2 separate regions of the Homo sapiens genome follow, and region 1 is linked to region 2. Evidence: fine-mapped expression QTL. Tissue or cell type: lung. Region 2 holds a variant in brackets; the other region holds the start of a gene. All regions are shown on one strand. Distances are from middle to middle.

Region 1 (2,754 bases), 39 kb before region 2:
TCCCAGGACCATGAGCTCCTGGAAGGCTGGCCAGGCCCCACAGCATCCCAGGTCTGCGGGCCCAGGGCCAATGCTGGGGGCTGGAGGCACTGGGCTCACCTCAGGACCTTCTGGATTCGGCGGCTGCAGTCGGGGGCCAGCAGCTTCCCCCTCCGAGTGTCTATAAACTTCTGGGCATGGGGCAGCAGCCCCTTGCTGGGCGGGAAGAGGCCCGTGCACAGCCACAGCAGCTGCCAGCCCCGCTCTTCGCTGTGCCTGAAGGGTAGCACTTGTCAGCCGGGAAAGGCCCCTCAGGGGGCCCTGGCCAGGCAGGCACCTTGGGGAGCAGGGACGGATGTGAGAGCTGCCTGGGGTCTAGAGGGCCCGAGGGGGAGGGCACCTGCCAGGCTGCACCATGCCAGCTGTGCCAGGCTGCCCGATGCCACGGGCTTTCACACCCTCAAGATGGGGGCGGGTGGGCATTGCACCCATTTTGTGGAAGACGACACTGAAGCTCAGAGAGGTCATGGCCTGCCAGGTCACACACAGAGGGTGGGAGTGGGCAGGGCCATCCTCTCCTGCTCTGACCACCCCTAGGACATCAGCAGAGCAGACCAAGGGCCCAACCCTTCCCACTGCTGAGGCAGGAGCCCAGGCAGGGGTTCTGCCGCCACCAGCTGCGGTGTCCTCTCTGAGCCTCGGTCTGGCCTCAGGGGCCGGGATGAGGACTGAGGGTGCCCGCGTGGGCTGGCCGCCGCCCCAGCAGACCTGTTGGAGTTGTGCGTCAGCTGCTTCAGGATCTGGCAGTAGACCTCGTCCTGGAGGGCCGGGTGCTGCAGGGCCAGTGTGAAGATCTGGTCGGTGAGCTCCAGGGTGGGCCAGGCCTGCCGAGAAGGGTAGTCGCCCATGTACCGGAGGATGGGTGTGGCTGTCAAGGAGCACAGTGCTGGGGCAGCCCCACGCTGACACAGACTGGGGATAGACGCTGACCCCGACCCCGGCCCTGCGGTGAGCCATGTGTGGGCTCTGTCCCGCCACTCCAGGTTTCTCAGATCTCCTGGGCTCTCCTGCCCTAGAGCACAGCTGTAGGGCCAGGATGTGCTGGGTGCCTCTGCCCTGGCATTGACGAGGTGCAGGCAGGCTGGTGGGGAAGGATATCGACAAAGATCTGGCAGGCGATGTCCCAGAGGTCGACGTTGGCGTGGACTCGCTTGAGCAGCGGCTGTCGCAGCGGCTCGCAGGAATAGGCCCACAGGTGGCCACGGGCACGGGCCAGGGGCAGCACGGCCATGCTCACCATGTCCTTCTCTGGAGCCCTGTGAGGTTAGAGGCTGGTGTGAGGCCTGCCCTGTGGCCTTCTCTGTCCCACGCTTCTCTGTCCTCTGACACCCCTGAGTGGCTGTGGGAGGGCCAGAGCACCCCACCCTGCCGCAAGCCCCTCCTGACTCCCCTGGCCTGGGAAGGCCAGGCAGGCTCCACATGGGTGGCGTGGCCTCTCTGCAGCTCTCAGTGGGTGCAATGAGGTGGAGCGGGGCTGGGAGCAGGGGGTGCAATGAGGTGAGGTGGGGCTGGGAGGTGGGGGTGCAATGAGGCGGAGCGGGGCTGGGGGGCACCTGAAGAACTCATAGGAGAACTCCTCCAGGGTGTGCAGCTTTTCCTTGGGTGGCTCCTCAGGACGTGGCTCTGTGAACTGCCCCTCCTGAGCCGCCAGCTTCCTCTTCTCTGGTGACATGGCAAGCAAGCTCTGAAGGGGGCACAGGCCTGTGGGTGCCCAGGAGCCACCGCCCATGAGGCCCTTCCTGCAGGCTCCTCCCGGCCTGGCAGCCTCAGTGACTTGGGAGGGGTCAGGCCCAGGGCTGAACAGGCCAGGGCTTACCCACACCCCTGTCACCTGCCGTGTGACCCAGGACCATGACTCTACCTCTTGGTGCCTGTCTCCTTTCCCTTGGGAGGGTGAGTGCCAATGGCTGTGGCACCCACATCACCCGTTCTGGGGGCCACGGCACTCTGGGTTTCTCAGACCCCCAGCTCCCCAGCTCCCCTTCTCCATGGGGCCACCTCTCACCCCAGCCCTGCCTGCCTAGTCTGCCACCAACTTCAGGCCTCAGCACAAATGTCCCTCCCTCGGGGATGCCTTCCCAGACAGGGTAAGTTCCCCACCCTATTATTTGTTCCTCTCCTTGGTGGCACTTTGCACAGTTGCCATCCATGTGTCATTATCTGCCCAAATGTCTGCCCTGAGGGTGGAGCTGCTATTATGCCCAGACTCGTACCACAGGCACAGGGCACATACTCAGCACTCAGTATGTACATGTTGCAATGCCTGCCATTCCTGCCTCCGGAGAGGCTGGTCTTGGGGGCTGGGGTGGGTGGTTCCCTTGTGCAGGGAGAGACTTGAGTCCCCCTGGGTCAGAGTGTAAATGAGGCAGAGAAAGATTGGGTTTGTCCCCCGGACACCCCCATGATGGAAGAGGGAGGGAACACCCATTTATTGAGGACCTACTAAGTACCAAGAGCTGGGCTGGCACTGCACACACACCTTGCCGCAGGAATGGTGGGGGCTGCCCGGGTGGCCCTCCTGGCCTCTGCTAGGTGGGCTGCAGGCCCTGAGCTAGGCCTCCCAACTAGGCATCCCAGGACTGCTCCACCCTGACCTCGGGTACCCAGGCTGAGGACAGGGGAGCGTGCCAGTTACCAGCAGCTGTGCCGAGGGCTTAGTGACCGTGGGGATGGTGTAGAGGCAGGCCATGGGCACCAGCCCCGTCTTGCCTGTCC
Region 2 (2,754 bases):
GCTTTCCAGTCTTTGTCTGTCCGCAGCCACACGTCAGTGATGCCCAGGGTCATCTGGCGGAGCTTGCCTTGCAGCTGCCAAGACCAAACGGGGGTATCGGTGGGAGGTGGGGCAGAGACCCCTCGGCGGCTCTCTGGGGGTGGTGTCTCCCTCCTTCTCCCACAGGCTCCCCCATCAGGGGCTGCCGCCCACCCCCGCCCAGGCACAGGCACAACGGGAACCTCGAATAGGGGTTGGGGTGAGGAGGGAACTCGGGGCCCGGGGCCTCCATGTGCTGTGGGACTCGGCCCAGGCCAGGCCCAGCCTCAGGATGGCTGAGGGTTCCAGACAGGACAGGAAGAACCTCGGGCCCCAGTAGCTTTCTAGCCACACCTCGGCTCCCTGACGCGGTAGGAGAGAACGTGTCTGCTGTACAACTACAGACATGTTCCAGAAGGAACCGCTGCGGCCGCCAGCTCTCCCAGACCCCAGGGAAAGCCCCCTCACTTCCGCGGCGCTGGGAGAGGGAGAGGGTAGGGTGGGAGGAGGAGAGAGGGAGGAAGGACAGGGCTCATCGCAAGGCTGGGGCCGGGGAGGGCAGCGGGAGACCCCCTCGGTACTGGGGGCTGGAGGTGCCAAGGCCGAGGGGAAGGCCGCGGATGGCCAGAGGTGACCGTCCCCGAGGGGCGCTGACCTGCATCCGCATGGCGTTGGGCAGCAACACGCCGAACCTCTGCGAGAACTCCTCGAACGTGTAGCGGATGGGGAAGCCCGACTTGCGGATGTGCACGGTCTCCATCATGCCCGAGTATCGCAGCTGCCGCAGGCACAGCTCCCGGTCGAACAGCTGTGGGCGGACACCGGGCGCTGACCCAGCGCAAGCCCCACTTTCCAGCCACCCCCCTTCCCGGCACCCCACCACCGGGCACGGGCCCACAGCCAGAGGTCAGTGTGTCCAGCCCCCCGCCCCGCCCACCCCCACTGTCCTCCAGAGATGGAAGAACTAAACAAATGCGACTTCAGTAAGGCTACATTTTGAAGAGAGTAGTGCAAGTAGTTGAAAAACCCGTAATGTTGTCAAGGAGATAAAAGTCGATAGCATGGAAACTGTGGCACCCACAGAAACACAGCACTCCCATCACTGTCAACTACTCGAAGCGCTGTGAATGTAAACGTCCTCTGCACATGCCCAGTTTAAAATGCTTTTTTTAAAAAAA[T/A]TTTTTAAATTTTATTTATTTATTTTTTTGAGATGGAGTCTCGTTCTGTCGCTCAGGCTGGAGTGCAGTGGCACGATCTCTGCTCACTGCAACCTCTGCCTCCTGGGTGCAAGCGATTCTCCTGCCTCAGCCTCCCGAGTAGCTGGGATTACAGGCGTGTAGCACCACGCCCGGGTAAGTTTTGTATTTTTAGTTAAAGACGGAGTTTCACCATGTTGGCCAGGCTGGTCTCCAACTCCTGAGCTCAAATGATCCGCCCGCCTTGGCGTCCCAGAGTGCTGGGATTACAGGCCTGAGCCACCGCGCCTGGCCCAGTTTAAAATGTTTTTAAGCGCCCCTTGCCTACATAGGTCGGGGTGGAAAGCTGCCCCGCAGGCACTTGCAGTTTCATGGTGCCTCCCTCACAATAGTTAAATGAAAAAATAAATCTACTCAGAGGCAGAAAATATCCTAATCAACTTAGTCTCTCCCTCCCTGGAGATGGAGGTCAGAGTGAGACCTGGAGTGGCTGGGGCGGAGGAGTGGAGGGCCTTTGGCCCCAGGGAGCTGAGCCGTCTTTTGCTTTGAGGCGAGTGTGACTGGCAGAGAAATGGCATGATGTCCTTCCCTGGGGTGTCAGGCTTCAGCAGGGGTTCCAAGACTCTGCCATGGCTTGGATTCTAGAGAGCCCCTCTCCACCTACAAGCCAGGAGTCTCTGAGGGACCCTGGGGAACGCCCTCTGATGTGGCAAACCCACCAGCAGGCACTGTTACCCCACCTGCAGGGTCACAGCGCCAACTGCTGGTGGGGTCCAGGCCACACTGAGCTTAGCCTCGGGTAAGTGTTTAGCTGCGCTTCACTGACGATTTCCTATGGGCCTGGTGTTTCTCACTGAATCTTTACAACATTCCTACCTGGTGGGGGTGATTGGCTCCAACTTAAAGATGAGGTGCTGAGGCATAGGGTTTTGCTTCTAAGGGGCTGAGCCTGGGTTTGAACCCTGAGCAGCCACCAATGAGAGATATCCCAGCCAGAGGCACTCTTAACCCCCGAGCTTCAGCCTCAGGCCTGCCTGCCTGTCCTGCAACTCCCAGCTCCCAAGGTAGGCAGGGTCTGAACGAGCCAAGGGTCTCTGGGAGCCCAGCTACTTCTCCCAGCAGTTAAGGAACAAGATAGGTTATCTCACATCTGCCTATTTTGCCTTCAAGGAAGATGCAACCTAGATTTCATAAGGCAAGCCTCATTTTATTTTTTTAGAGACAGGTCTTGCTCTGTCACCCAGGCTGAAGTGCAGTGGTGTGATCATAGTTCACTGCAGCCTTGACCTCCTGGGCTCAAGTGATCCTCCTCCCTCAGCCTCCTGAGTAGCTGAGACTACAGGCACATACCACCATACCTAGCTAATTTTTATACTTTTAAATTTTTTTGCAGAGATAAGGTCTTACTATGTTGCCCAGGCTTGCCTCAAGCAATCCTCCCGCCTCAGCCTCCCAAAGTGCTGGGATTACAAGCGTGAGCTACTGCACCCAGATCAAACTCGATTTCACATAGTTTTATTCTTTCCAAAAAGCATTTAAT

The links. PIP is the estimated chance that this variant, and not a neighbour inherited with it, causes the effect.
Region 1: it holds the start of MYO7B-AS1, and the variant in region 2 is fine-mapped to the expression of MYO7B-AS1 in lung (TOPMed, PIP above 0.99).

Annotation. Positions count from the first base shown.
Region 1 is chr2:127,629,747-127,632,500 of GRCh38, reverse strand. MYO7B-AS1 (MYO7B antisense RNA 1) reads left to right here and starts at 1,717. Exons shown (of 3, transcript XR_923314.3): 1 at 1,717-2,126. MYO7B (myosin VIIB) reads right to left here. Exons shown (of 48, transcript NM_001393586.1): 35 at 2,675-2,754; 36 at 1,593-1,723; 37 at 1,138-1,295; 38 at 748-901; 39 at 100-255.
Region 2 is chr2:127,590,866-127,593,619 of GRCh38, reverse strand. MYO7B (myosin VIIB) reads right to left here. Exons shown (of 48, transcript NM_001393586.1): 17 at 674-826; 18 at 1-74. Among named protein-coding and RNA genes, the nearest start is that of MYO7B-AS1, 39 kb to the left of the region's middle. The variant T/A (reference allele first, on the strand shown) is at 1,197.